Homo sapiens: one gene and its partner. The protein of the gene in region 1 interacts with the protein of each later gene in a pairwise test. Each region holds a gene or a part of one and is shown in the gene's direction. Other genes may lie near its edges.

Region 1 (6,931 bases):
GGACTTTGTGGGTTCGTCTTGCTGACTTCAAGAATAAAGCCACAGACCCTCATGATTGAATGTTACAACTGTTAAAGATGGTGGGTCCAAAGTTTGTTCCTTCCGACATTCAGACATTATCTAGTTTCTTCCTACTGGTGGGTTCACGGTCTCACTGATTTCAGGAATGAAGCTGCAGGCCTTTGCAGTGAGTGTTACACCTCTTAGAGGTGGCACATCTGCAGTTACTTGTTCTTTCTGGTGGGTTTGTGCTCTCTGCTAGCCTCAGCAATAAAACCACCAACCTCTGCAGTCAGTGCTACAGTTCATAAAGGTGGCACATCCAGTTTTTCATCTGCTTTCAGTGGGTTTGTGGTCTCACTAGCTTCAGAAGCAAAACTGTAGCCTTATCACGGTGAGTATTAAAACTCATAAACATTGCACGGATCTAAAGAACTATCAGCACCAACATTTATTGCAAAAAGCAAAAGAACAAAGCTCTGTCAGCCCAAGAAAACACCCAAGCACGTTTCCCCTACTGGCTGTGGGTGGCCAGTTTTTATTCCCTAATCTGGCCACACCCACATCCAGCTGATTGGTCCATTTTACAGAGTGCCGATTGGTGCATTTGCAAACCTTTAGCTAGACACAGAGTGCTGATTGGTGCGTTTACAATCCTTTGGCTAGATACAAAAGTTCTCCAAGTCCTGACCAGATTAGCTAGACACAGAGCGCTGATTGGTGCGTTTACAAACCTTTAGCTAGACAAAAAACTGCTGACTGGTGCATTTACAATCCTTTAGCTAGACACAAAAGTTTTCCAAGTCCCCACCCGTCCCAGAAGCCCAGCGGGCTTCACCTCTCGCTGGGAGTTGGGTGGGACTTTTTGGCAACTAGCCTGGGCACTCCGGGAGCTCCTCCCACACAACCAAGAGGAAAAGAGGAGGAGAGAGACAGAGACCCGCCATCGTGGCCAACGACCCCGCCAAGAGGGAACGGCGGTCCACGCACTGGACCCAGCCTCCGATCAAGCCCAGCAGGGGCCGGCAGGTCGCGCCAAGTGCGGGGCCCACCGAGCCTGCGCCCACCTGGAACCCGGGGCAGCGCAGCCCCAGTCCCCGCCTGCGCCTCTCCCTCCACGCCTCCCCACGAGCAGATGGAGCCGGCTCCGGTCTCGGCCAGCCCCAGGGAGGGCCCCGCACAGCGCAGCGGCGGGCTGAAGGGCTCCTCGAGCCTGGCCGATGCTAAGGAGGCACCGAGAGCAAGCGAAGGCTGCTAGTGAGAGGTGACGACGTGCTGGCAGTCCTCAGAGCCCTCGCTCTCGGCGCCTCCTCTTCCTGGGCTCCCACTTTGGAGGCACTTGAGCCCTTTAGCCCACCGCTGCACTGTGGGAACCCCTTTCTGGGCTGGCCAAGGCCAGAGCTGGCTCCCTCAGCTTGCAGGGAGGTGTGGAGGAAGAGGCGCGAGCGGAAACCAGGGCTGCGCGCGGCGCTTCCGCGCCAGTTGGAGTTCCGGGTGGGCGTGGGCTTGGCGGGCCCCGCACTCGGAGCAGCCGGCCGGCCGGCCCTGGGCAATGAGGGGCTTGGCACCCAGGCCAGCGGCTGCAGAGGGTGTACTGGGTCCCCCAGCAGTGCCAGCCCACCGGCGCTGCGTTGGATTTCTCGCGGGGCCTTAGCTGCCTTCCGACGGGGCAGGGCTCGGAACCTGCAGCCCGCCATGCCTGAGCCTCCCACCACCTCCGTGGGCTCCTGTAGGGCCCGAGCCTCCCTGATGAGCACCACCCCCTGCTCCACAGGGCCCAGTCCCATCAACCACCCAAGAGCTGAGAAGTGTGGGCGCAGGGCGCAGGACTGGAAGGCAGCTCCACCTGCAGCCCTGGTGTGGGATCCACTGGGTGAAGCCAGCTGGGTTAAGTCTGGTGGGGAGGTGGAGAACCTTTATGTTTAGCTCAGGGATTGTAAATACACCAATTGGCACTCTATATCTAGCTCAAGGTTTGTAAACACACCAATCAGCCCCCTGTGTCTGGCTCAGGGTTTGTGAATGCACCAATGGACACTGTATCTAGCTACTCTGGTGGGGACCGTGGAGAACCTTTATGTCTAGCTTAGGGATTGTAAATACACCAATCGGCACTCTGTATCTAGCTCAAGGTTTGTAAACACACCAGTCAGCACCGTGTGTCTAGCTCAGGGTTTGTGAATGCACCAATCCACACTCTGTATCTAGCTACTCTGGCAGGACCTTGGAGAACCTTTGTGTGGACACTCTATAGCTAATCTGGTGGGGACGTGGAGAACTTTTGTATCTAGCTCAGGGATTGTAAACGCACCAATCAGCACCCTGTCAAAACAGACCACTCGGCTCTACCAATCAGCAGGATGTGGGTGGGGCCAGATAAGAGAATAAAAGCAGGCTGCCCAAGCCAGTAGTTGTAACGCACTTGGGTTTTCTTCTATGTGGAGGAGGCTTTGTTCTTTCTCTTTTTCTTTTTGCAACAAATATTGCTGTTGCTCGGTGCTTAGGTCCTGTGTTGTCTTTACAAGTGGTAACGCTCACTGCGAAGATTTGCAGTTTTGCTCCCAAAGCTACGAAGACCACGATCCCACCGGAAAGAACAAACATATTCCAGACGCACTGCCTTAAGAGCTTTAACATTCGTTATAGAAGTCTGTAGCTTTGCTCCTTGAGCCAGTCCAAAGCTAGGGAGACCACGATCCCACCGGGAAGAACAAACAATTCCAGACACACTGCCTTAAGAGCTTTAACATCCACCACAGAGGTCTGTAGCTTTGCTCGTTGAGCCAGTGAGACAGCAAACCCACCAGCAGAAAAACTCCCTGAATACTTCTAAACATCGGAAGAAAAACTCTAGAGACACTGCTTTTAAGAACTAACACTCATCGCGAGGGTCTGCAGCTTTCTCAAGTCAGACCAAGAAGCCATCAATTTTGAACACACTGGCACGTTGTGATCTCTCACTATCTCCACTAAAAATAACAAAAATTAGCCTGGCAGCCAGGGGTGGTGGTACAGGCCTATAATCCCAGCTACTCAGGCAGCTGAGGCAGGAGAATCAGTTGAACATGGGAGTCAGAGGTAGTGGTGAGACAAGATCATACGCTGCACTCCAGCCTGGGCAATAGAGTGAGACTCCACATAAAAAAAAAAAAAACTTGGCTGGAATTCGCTTTATTCACTGACAATTATATTGGTCAGATTTGTGTATGTTGATACTTGTAGGGGATGGAGAGGGAGAAGTCAACGATGACAGCAAATTTTAGTGTAGAGCAACTAAGAGAATGGTGGTGCAGGAAACGGAATAGGAGTGACTCCAAGTGGGAATGGAGATAATATGCTGTGGATATTTTGGGTCCACAGAGCTGGGTAAAAATCAGGTTTAACTTACTCCCCATCCCCCTTTAAGATGCTTCTCAAGCAGCCTCACTCCCTAAAACAAACGGATATTTGGCTTTGAGCCACATTATTCTGCAGCCCCCGTATTTTCTTCCAGGCAGGCCCTTCCTGGTGTAGACAAGATCGGGCTTGAGTGACACTCCTCCCTGATGGCCTGCATCTGGTTTATACCCTGTAACTTGTTCCTCTATTAATGGGGTCCTTCAAAATCCAGCCTCAGATTCCCTGGTCCCGCAGCGGTGGCCTCACCTCTGGCGTGGCCGAGCTCACGTGGTCCGGCTTGTGCAAGTCCCAGGTCCAACTCCGGGTCTCCTGCTTTTGGCCACTCAGGATTGGACCTGGGACTGATACTGGTCGGCCCTGCAGGCGCTGCGGACAGGGGAAGCACAGAGATTCCCCGCCGCGTTCCCTGGACTCAGGAGCTCGCCGCGATGCCCCGCCCCACTCTCCACCCGCTGAATGCAGGGCGCATGCTGCTACTTGGCGGCTCAAGCCCCGCCCGCACCGTCCCCATTCTCTGACCGCCCCTCTCCCGGTACACTGCGCAGGCACAACAGAGCCGCTCCCCTCTCCTCGCCCCGCCACCGGGACGGAGAGCGCCCGCCGCTGCATTTCCGGCGACACCTCGCAGTCATTCCTGCGGCTTGCGCGCCCTTGTAGACAGCCGGGGCCTTCGTGAGACCGGTGCGAGTATTTGGGGATTATTCTTATTTTCTGCCACTTTTAACTTTTAGGGATTATTTAGGAGTTTCACGGCCGTCTGCTTTTCGTCCCCCCGATTCAGCGGGCCTTCAGGCCGTGTGGTCGGTGCTTTTCTCGTTGGGTATTTTCTGCTTTTAAAAGAAGTTGTGGATGCGCGGAGCCCCTGGGCTCCTGAGGCAAAGGCTTACCCATGTAGCATAGTGTTGCCTCGTTTCTTGGTGATTTTCTTGCTCCATCTCTTTAAAAGCCTCCCTTACTCGGTGCCGTCTCGAGTTAAGAACTGTGGGCAAGATCCCAAGCCCGCTGCCCTTCCCTGTTTTATGGAAACTTAATTCTTTTTTTTTTTTTTTTTGTCCTTGAGGGAGGGACTTGCTCTGTCGCCCATGCTTGAGTGCAGTTGCCTGAATATGTCTCATTGCAGCCTCTGCCTCCTGGGCTCAAGCCATCCTCCCACTTCAGCCTCCCAAGTAGCTGGGATTTACAGTCGCATATCACCATGCGCGATTAATTTTTTTATATTTTTTAGTAGACAATGGGTTTCACTATGTTGGCCAGGCTGGTCTTGAACTCCTAACCCCAGGTGATCCGCCCGCCTCGGCCTCCTAAAGTACTGGGATGACAGGCGTCAGCCACTGCGCTTGGCCTAATTCTTTAAACAGAATAAACGGGGTATGCATTGCTTTCATCTTTTGGCTCACTGGACACAGGATACTTTCTGTAAGAAAATAGAAGCTGTTTTTCCAAGGGTGTAGTGTCACATGTGAATATGACCACTGTTTCCGTATATTTTATCCTCTCCTACTACTGCCCTCCTAACAAGAACTGTGAGTTGGACGCAGAAGTTTCTAAAAAAGTTGAGCTTTGAAATTGGCTGTTGCAGCAGGGATGAAAAGCAACACCCCTACCTCCCCTCAAAAGAGACATTAAAGTAGTTGGATTAAGGGCACGGGAGTATTTGCTTTTGAATTTAGTGATAACATGGGTAGCTGATGAAATGACTAACACATTCCCTGATTTTAGAGCTGGTCAGTGGATCTTGCTGAGTTTCCCGTGGGCCTATGTGATTAAAACTGAGGTTTTCATGACAATGGTCAGCATCTGTTCAGGGTTTACTAGGTGCTAAGCACCTTTACATGTGACATCCATTGAATGCTCACTACAGCCCCAGGAAATCGGTACCAGTGTTATCCTCATGGTACAGTGAAGAATACTGAGACTTAGGTTGCGTAGCTTGCAGGTTGGACACACTTCTTTCTGACTGCTGGAGAGCTGTGCTTTTAACTACCTCTGATCCAGCTTGTTTTCTGCAGGTGCAGGCCTGGGGTAGTCTCCTGTCTGGACAGAGAAGAGAAAAATGCAGGACACTGGCTCAGTGTGAGTGCAGTAAATGGGTATGGAGTAGCCAGGAGCTTCTGGAAACCAGAGTTCCTTTCCTTAGCTGAAAAGAACCTTAAGAGTAGACTGCCTGGGATGGCATGGGGGATGGGAGGATCACTGGACCTGTGGGCCAGAAACTTGGGTTTGAGTCCCAGCTCTGGCTTTGCTGAGTTGTGTGACTCTCAGAAAGTCATCCAACCTCTGTGGTCCTTATTTTCAGTGATAGGACCTGTGGGGAATGATTACCTTTTAGTCCCATCCTATGACAGTATGGTTTGTTTTCAAAGCCAGGTTAGCACTGACTTCTCCCTCTTGTGTTTTCAGAGTGCCTTTGCATTGGTTTGGCTTTGGCTACGCAGCACTGGTTGCTTCTGGTGGGATCATTGGCTATGTAAAAGCAGGTAGGGTTTTGTTGTTACTTAGCCTCTTAACATCTTCACGTTGTCCCAGTGAAATGTGAATGCCCGTGTCCCTGAGAAGCAATCTCATTTGAGTCAGGTTTGCTGTGGGTCCCCAAGCTGGAGTGCAGGCTTCCTTGTCAGTCTTGCAGCTCCTGCCCTTGCCCTTTGGTTATCTGGTGAAGCTGAGCCAGGCCTCTTTTGGAATTACTTGTTTTTGCCTCTTTATCTACAGATAGGCAGGGGCGGTTGTAGTTTGTTATTATCGTTGACTGCCATTCATCAGCCACGACCCCCAAGTGCCATCTCTGGGCTCAAGTAGGAGGAAACCTCTGGCCTACACAGACTGGTATTTTGAACTCTCCTCGTTAGGCCAGGCAGGGGTGTGTCAGTGGCTGTGCTTGTGTTTGCCCCCTAGTCCTTGCCTGCATTCCCACCCCAACCCCTGCACCAGAATTCTTCTTCTCCAGGTCTTTGTATTTTTTTAATTGACTGGCCTTATCTCCTTCTCCTTTTGTGATTTGCTGGAGGTCCTGCCTGTACACAATTCCAGTCCTTCATGGTTGATCAGGCCTGATTAGAAAGAAGGCCTAGCCACAGTTCCATCTAAGGAGGGAAGATGGCCTTCTTTCCTTTCCTTAGATGGAAGTGCCCTGCCTATTAGAGGAGAGAAAAATGGGGTGGGAAGACCCTGACTTCTCTGAGAAGATAGCACACTCTCTGTAACGTCTTCCTGCTTGAGTCCACCTTGGCTATGAGCTGTGTTGAGAGTTCTCTGTGCTGTCCTCCTTTGTAGGGCAGCGGTCTGGGGGATTCCGTTAGTGAAATAAGTGCCTGACATTACAATGCAAGCTGTGTTTGCTTCCCTCTAGGCAGCGTGCCGTCCCTGGCTGCAGGGCTGCTCTTTGGCAGTCTAGCCGGCCTGGGTGCTTACCAGCTGTCTCAGGATCCAAGGAACGTTTGGGTTTTCCTAGGTATGTCTGCTTTGGCGTCTCCTTAGGGCAGCTATGTATCCAGAATACTCTTTTCCAAAAGACCCTGGTTTGGTGGGATGGGGT
Region 2 (7,026 bases), on another chromosome or scaffold:
GGATCACAGGTTCAGGAGATCGAGACCATCCTGGCTAACACAGTGAAACCCCATCTCTACTAAAAAAAAAAAAAAAAAAAAAAAAAAAATTAGCCGGGCGTGGTGGCGGGTGCCTGTAGTCCCAGCTACTCGGGAGACTGAGGCAGGAGAATGGCATGAACCTGGGAGGCGGAGCTTGCAGTGAGCCGAGATCATGCCACTCCACTCCAGCCTGGGCAATAGAGCTAGACGCCGTCTCAAAAAAATAATAATAATAAAATAAACATTAGCCAGGTGCGGTGGCAGGCGTCTGTAATCCCAGCTACTTGGGAGGCAGAGGTTGCAGTGAGCCAAGATTGGGCCGCTGCACTCCAGCCTGGGCGACAGAGTGAGACTCCATCTCAAAAAAAAAAAAGCATGGGTACAGTAGGAGCAGGATTAAATAAATACATGCAGCTGGGCGCAGTGGCTCATGGCTGTAATCCCAGTACTTTGGGAGGCTGAGGCGGGTGGAGGTTGAGGTCGGGAGTTCGAGACAAGCCTGACCAACATAAAGAAACCCTATCTCTACTAAAAATACAAAATTAGCCAGGCATGGTGGCGCATCCCTGTAATCCCAGCTAACTCGGGAGGCTGAGGCAAGAGAATGGCTTGAATCTGGGAGGCAGAGCTTGTGGTGAGCCAAGACTGCGCCATTGCACTCCAGCCCAGGCAACAAGAGTGAAACTCCATCTCAAAAAAAATAAAGGCCAGGTGTGGTGACTCATGCCTGTAATCCCAGCACTTTCGGAGGCTGAGGCAGCTGGATCACATGGTCAGGAGTTTGAGACCAGCCTGGCCAACATGGTGAAACCCCATCTCTACTAAAAATACAAAAATTAGCCAAGCATGGTGGCACATTCCTGTAATCCCAGCTACTCAGGAGGCTAAGGCAGGAGAATCACTTGAACCCGGGAGGCGGAGGTTGCAGTGAGCCGAGATCATGCCATTGCACTCCAGCCTGGGCAACAGAGTGAGACTCTGTCTCAAAAAAATAAATAAATAAATAAATAAGTAAATAAATACATGCATATACACATATGAACCTACGAACATGGGATGAGGCCAGGCGTGGTGGCTCACACCTGTCATCCCAGCACTTTGGTGGGAGGATTAGTTAAGCCCAGTAGTTCCAGACCAGCCTGGACAACATAGACCCCATCTCTACAAAAAATTTAAAAATTAGCTGGGTGTGCTAGTGCACGCCTGTAGTCCCAGTTGCTATTTGGGAGCTGAGACAGGAGGATCACTTGAGCCTGGGAGTTCAAGGCTACAGTGAGCTATGATTGCACCGCTGCACTCCAGCCTGGGCAACAGAGCGAGACTGTACTTCAAAATATAAAAACCGACAAAACAAACAGATCTAAACATAGAAAAGGTACAGGAAGCCAGGTGCAATGGCTCACACCTGTAAACCTAGCACTTTGGGAGTCTGAGGCGAGCAGATTGCTTGAGTCCAGGATTTCAAGACCAGCCTGGGCAACATAGTGAGACCCCATTCCTACAAAAAGTACAAAAATTAGCCAGGTGTCTTGCCGTAGTCCCAGCTTTATGTAGTCCCAGCTACTCGGGAGGCCAAGGTTGAAGGATAGCTTGAAGCTGGGAGGTTGAGCCTGCAGTAAGCTGAGGTCGTGCCACTGTACTCCAGCCTGGGCAACAGACCGAGACCCTGTCTAAAAAAAAGAAGAAAAAGTACAGGAAAAATACGGTATATATGGTATTATAATCTTATGGGACCACTGTAGTATATGCAGTCCATTGTTGGCTGAAATGTCATTATTCTCTTTTTTTTTTGAGACGGAGTCTCACTCTCACCCAGGCTGGAGTGCAGTGGTGTGATCTTGGCTCACTGCAGCCTCCACCTCCCGGGTTCAAGCGATTCTCCTGCCTCAGCCTCCTAAGTAGCTGAGATTACAGGCTAGTGCCATCACGCCTGGCTAATTTTTGTATTTTTAGTAGAGATGGGGTAGTGCCATGTTGGCCAGGCTAGTCTTGAACTCCTGACCTCAAGTGATCTGCCCGCCTTGGCCTCCCAAAGGGCTGGCATTACTGGCATGAGCCACTGCACCCGGCCTACGGTATTATAATCTTATGGGACCTCTGTAGTATATGTGATGTATTGCTGGCTGGAATGCTGTTATTCTCTGCAGGACTGCATAATGAACATTCAGGCCTATATTCACAGGTTGTCCAAGGCAGGTCTGGCCTGCAGGCCATAGCTTGAGACCCTCCTGCTAGTCTAAGGTCTCTGATTCCTGTGAGGTTTAATTTTCCTTATCCCCGTTTTGCAGATAGGGAAAACCAAGGCAGAATCCTTTGCTCCCAGGCCTTCGAGGTTTATAAGAAGTAGAACTGGGTTATAAACTGGACAGCATGGCCAGGTGTGGTGGCTCACGCCTATAATCACAGCACTTTTGGAGGCCAGTTCGGATGAATCACTGGAGATCAGGAGTTCGAGACCAGCCTGGCCAACATGGTGAAACCCCGTCTCTACTAAAAATACAAAAATTAGCTGGGCATGGTGGCGGGCGCCTGTAATCTCAGTTACTCGGGAGGCTGAGGCAGGATAATCACTTGAACCCGGGAGGCAGAGGTTGCAGTGAGCCGAGATGACACCACTGCACTCCAACCTGGGCGACAGAGCGAGACTCCATCTCTAAATAAATAAATAAATAAACTGGACAGTGTGATTCTTGGGACTGTCTGCATGGGACGAGCCCAGCTGTGTGTTCTGGTCTTCACAGAGACCCTTCTCCTTTTCCTTGCAGCCCGCATCGCCACATCCCTGGATGGCTTTGACGTCGCGTCCGTGCAGCAGCAGCGGCAGGAACAGAGCTACTTCGTACGTCTGGGCTCCCTGTCGGAGAGGCTGCGGCAGCACGCCTATGAGCACTCGCTGGGCAAGCTTCGAGCCACCAAGCAGAGGGCACAGGAGGCTCTGCTGCAGCTGTCGCAGGTCCTAAGCCTGGTGAGGTTCCAGGGGGTCGGGGCCCTGAGCCAGCAGCCTTCACCCCGCAGCAGACACCCACCCAGAGCTCAGTGGCTTATTGCTCACCCCTCTGCAGGCTGGCAGGGCCATTCCCGCTTGCTCCTGGCACTGTATCTGGTTGTACACTCATTTGCTCAGGATGCTGCCACAAACCACACTGTCTGGGGCCGGGCACAGTGGCTCACACCTCTTTGTGTGAGTCCCTCAAGTGCTTTGGGAGCCCAAGGCAGGAGGATCGCATGAGTCCAGGGGTTTGAGACCCACCTGGGCAATATAGCAAGACCCCATCTCTACAAAAAATAATTTAAAACAATTAGCTGGCTGTGGTGGTGCGTGCCTGTAATCTCAGCTACTTGGGAGGCTGAGGTGGGACGATTGCTTGAGCCCAGGAGTTGGAGGCTGCAGTGAGCTATGATTGTGCCACTGCACTGCAGCCTAGTCAACAGAGCAAGACCCCATCTCAAAAAAAAAAAAAAAATCGTGGCCAGGTGCGGTGGCTCATGCCTGTAATCCCAGCACTTTGGGAGGCTGAGGCGGGTGGATCACGAGGTCAGGAGTTCAAGACCAGCCTGGCCAACATGGTGAAACCCCATCTCTACTAAAAATACAAAAATTAGCCAGGTACAATGGCAGGCACCTGTAATCCCAGCTACTCAGGAGGCTGAGGCAGGAGAATCGCTTGAACCCGGGCGGCAGAGATTGCAGTGAGCCGAGATCATGCTACTGCTCTCCAGCCTGGGTGACAAGAGTGAGACTCCATCTCAAAAAAAAAAAAAAAAAATTCGTACTGTCTGGGAAATGTAAACAACAGATATTTATTTTCTCACATTTCTGGAGGCTGGAAGTCCAAGATCAGAGTGTCCTTCTGGGGCCTCTCTCCTTGACTCGTAGACAGCCATCTTCTCTCTGTGTATTCACGTGGTCGTCCCTTCCCTCTGTGTATGTCTGTGTCCTAATCTCTTTTTTTTCTTTGAACGGAGTCTCGCTCTGTTGCCCAGGCGGGAGTGTAGTGGTGCAATCTCAGATCACTGCAACCTCCACTTCCCGGGTTCAAGTGATTCTTGGGCCTCCACGTCCCGAGTAGCTGGGATCACAGGCACTTGCCACCATGCCTGGCTAATTTTTGTATTTTTAGTAGAGATGGGGTTTCACTATGTTGGCCGGGCTGGTCTCAAACTCCTGACCTCAAGTGATCCACCCACCTCAGCCTCCCAAAGTGCTGGGATTACAGACACGAGCCACCACGCACAGCTCTAATCTCCTTATTGAAGGAGACCAGCCCTTTATGGATTGGAGCCCACCCTAATGGATAGCTTCATTTACCTTTATGACGATTTTTTTTTTTTTTTTTCCAGAGACAGGGGCTCACTCTGTTGCCCAGGCTGGAGTGGATGATCATGGCTCACTGCAGCCTCTTAGGTGCACCCATCTTGGAGCATATGTCTGCCATCATTCCTCTTTATTTATTTTTCTTTTCTTTTTGTGGCGCGATCTCAGCTCACTGCAAGCTCCGCCTCCTGGGTTCATGCCATTCTCCTGCCTCAGCCTTCTGGTAGCTGGGACTACAGGCGCCGGCCACCATGCCTGGCTAATTTTCTTTTCTATTTTTAGTAGAGATGGGGTTTCACAGTGTTAGCCAGGATGGTCTTGATCTCCTGACCTCTTGATCCGCCCGCCTCGGCCTCCCAAAGTGCTGGAATTACAGGCGTGAGCCACCGCGCCCGGCCTTTTTTTTTTTTTTTTTGAGACGGAGTCTCGCTCTGTCACCCAGGCTGGAGTGCAGTGGCATGCAGTCTCTGCTCACTGCAAGCTCTGCCTCCTTGGTTCACACCATTCTCTTGCCTCAGCCTCCCGAGTAGCTGGGACTACAGGCGCCCACCACCACGCTGGGCTAATTTTTTGTATTTTTAGTAGAGATGGGGTTTCACCGTGTTAGCCAGGATGGTCTCGATCTCCTCACCTCGTGATCCACCCGCCTCGGCCTCCCAAAGTGCTGGGATTACAGGTGTGAGCCACTGCGCTCGGCCGACTATTTTTCTTTTCTCTTAAACTTTATGTAATATGTAGAGATGAGATGTCACTGTGTTGCCTATGCTGTTCTGGAGCTACTGAGCTCAACTGATCCAACCCCCTTGGCCTCCCAAAGCGCTGGGATTGCAGAAGTCAGCCTGCTTCGTTCCTTTGGAAGGCTGAGTCATATTTCATTACAAGCACTTTTTTTTGTTTTTTGTTTTTTGTTGTTTTGAGATAGAGTCTGGCTCTGTCACCCAGGCTGGAGTGCAGTGGCGCAATCTCAGCTCACTGCAACCTCCGCCTCCCAGGTTCAAGCGATTCTCGTGCCTCAGCCTCCTGAGTAGCTGGGACTACAGATGTGCACCACCACACCTGGCTAATTTTTGTATTTTTAGTAGAGACGGGGTTTCACCATGTTGGTTAGGCTGGTCTCGAACTCCTGAACTCAGGTGATCCACCCACCTCAACCTCCCAAAGTGCTGGGATTACAGGTGTGAGCCACCATGCCCAGCCTACAAGCACTTTTTAAGCCTTTGCTGGTTCCATCTGCTCATGTCCCATTGGCCAAAGCCAGCCACGTGTCCAGGCTCCCTTGCAAGCGCAGGAGAAATTGACACAATGGGAAGAGCTACAGGGGATGTGCAGCCCTTCTTTGCACCAACCACACAGAGCCTGAGTATGTCAATGATTAAACCAAAGGCCCCAGAGCTCACCGTAGCCAGGAAACCCTTCCTCCCTCCCTCCCTTTCTCTTTTCTAGACTGTCATGTAAGTCAGATGCTGGAAGGATTCCTTGGGTTCCTTCTGGAATCCCGTCTCTCCCAGGGGAGCCTCCTTCCCTCACTTCTCTCTCCCCTGCCCCAGATGGAAACTGTCAAGCAAGGCGTTGATCAGAAGCTGGTGGAAGGCCAGGAGAAGCTGCACCAGATGTGGCTCAGCTGGAACCAGAAGCAGCTCCAGGGCCCCGAGAAGGAGCCGCCCAAGCCAGAGGTACCCATGAGGGGACTGGGGGGTGGCCTAGGGTACTTGGAGTCCCGATGCCACTCTCTACACCTCTGCTTCATGGGCCTACCTGCTTCGAATGATTTCCCTAGCCTCACCTGCTTTTGGAAGCTAATGACACCTCCTTCAGGAAGCCTGCCTTGATTTCTCCTCTTGGGCATGCATAGGTATGGCTTCTGTTTTTTGTTTTGAGATGGAGTGTTGCTCTGTCACCCAGGCTGGAGTACAATGGCATGATCTTGGCTCACTGCAACCTCCACCTCCTGGGTTCGAGTGATTCTCCTGCCTCAGCCTCCCTAGTAGCTGGGATTACAGGCGCTCACCACCACGCCTGGCTAATTTTTTTGTATTTTTAGTAGAGACAGGGTTTCACCATGTTGGCCAGGCTGGTCTTGAACTCCTGACCTCAAGTGATCCGCCCTGCCCAGCCTCCCAAAGTGTTGGGATTACAAGCGTGAGCTACTGAGCCCGGCCCCTAGCAGCAACTTCTGACTAGTATTCTCCGGCCCCCTCCACTCTATCTCAAGCCTTGGCCTCTTGTGTTCTCTAATGGGTCTCGCTGCCTGTCCCACCACCCACTTAAGCTCCCCAGGGGCAAAGGAAGTTTGCAGTGAGCCGAGATCGCACCACTGCACTCCAGCCTGGGCAACAGAAGGAGATTCTGTCTCAAAAAACAGAAAATGTCCTGAAATTAGATGAAGGTAGTATTTGCCCAACCTTGTGAATGTATTAAAAACCAATGAATCGTACACTTCAAAGGGCGAGTTTTAGGGTGTGTGGATTATATATCAATTTTTGAAATAGTTGTTTATTTATCTTTGAGACAGGGTCTCACTCTGTTGCCCTGGCTGGAGTGCAGTGATGCCATCACAGGTCACTGTGGCCTCGCCATTGCAGGCTCAGGCAATCCTCTCGCCTCAGCCTCCCAAGTAGCTGGGAACACAGGCGTGTGCCACGATGCCTGGCTAATTTTTTTTTTAATTTTTAGTAGAGACAGGATCTCAC

What was found.
Region 2: the proteins of TMEM14C (region 1) and PLIN3 interact in binary tests that used the Homo sapiens proteins (3 or more experiments, as listed by UniProt).

What each region holds. Positions count from the first base shown.
Region 1 is NC_000006.12:10,719,162-10,726,092, forward strand, and holds the start of TMEM14C (transmembrane protein 14C), read left to right. Parts: upstream 1-3,908; 5' UTR 3,909-4,080; intron 4,081-5,394; exon of another isoform or gene 5,395-5,408; 5' UTR 5,409-5,452; coding exon 5,453-5,472; intron 5,473-5,799; coding exon 5,800-5,876; intron 5,877-6,745; coding exon 6,746-6,847; intron 6,848-6,931. UniProt on the Homo sapiens protein: Required for normal heme biosynthesis.
Region 2 is NC_000019.10:4,843,651-4,850,676, reverse strand, and holds part of PLIN3 (perilipin-3), read left to right. Parts: intron 1-2,786; coding exon 2,787-2,986; intron 2,987-5,883; coding exon 5,884-6,009; intron 6,010-7,026. UniProt on the Homo sapiens protein: Structural component of lipid droplets, which is required for the formation and maintenance of lipid storage droplets. Required for the transport of mannose 6-phosphate receptors (MPR) from endosomes to the trans-Golgi network.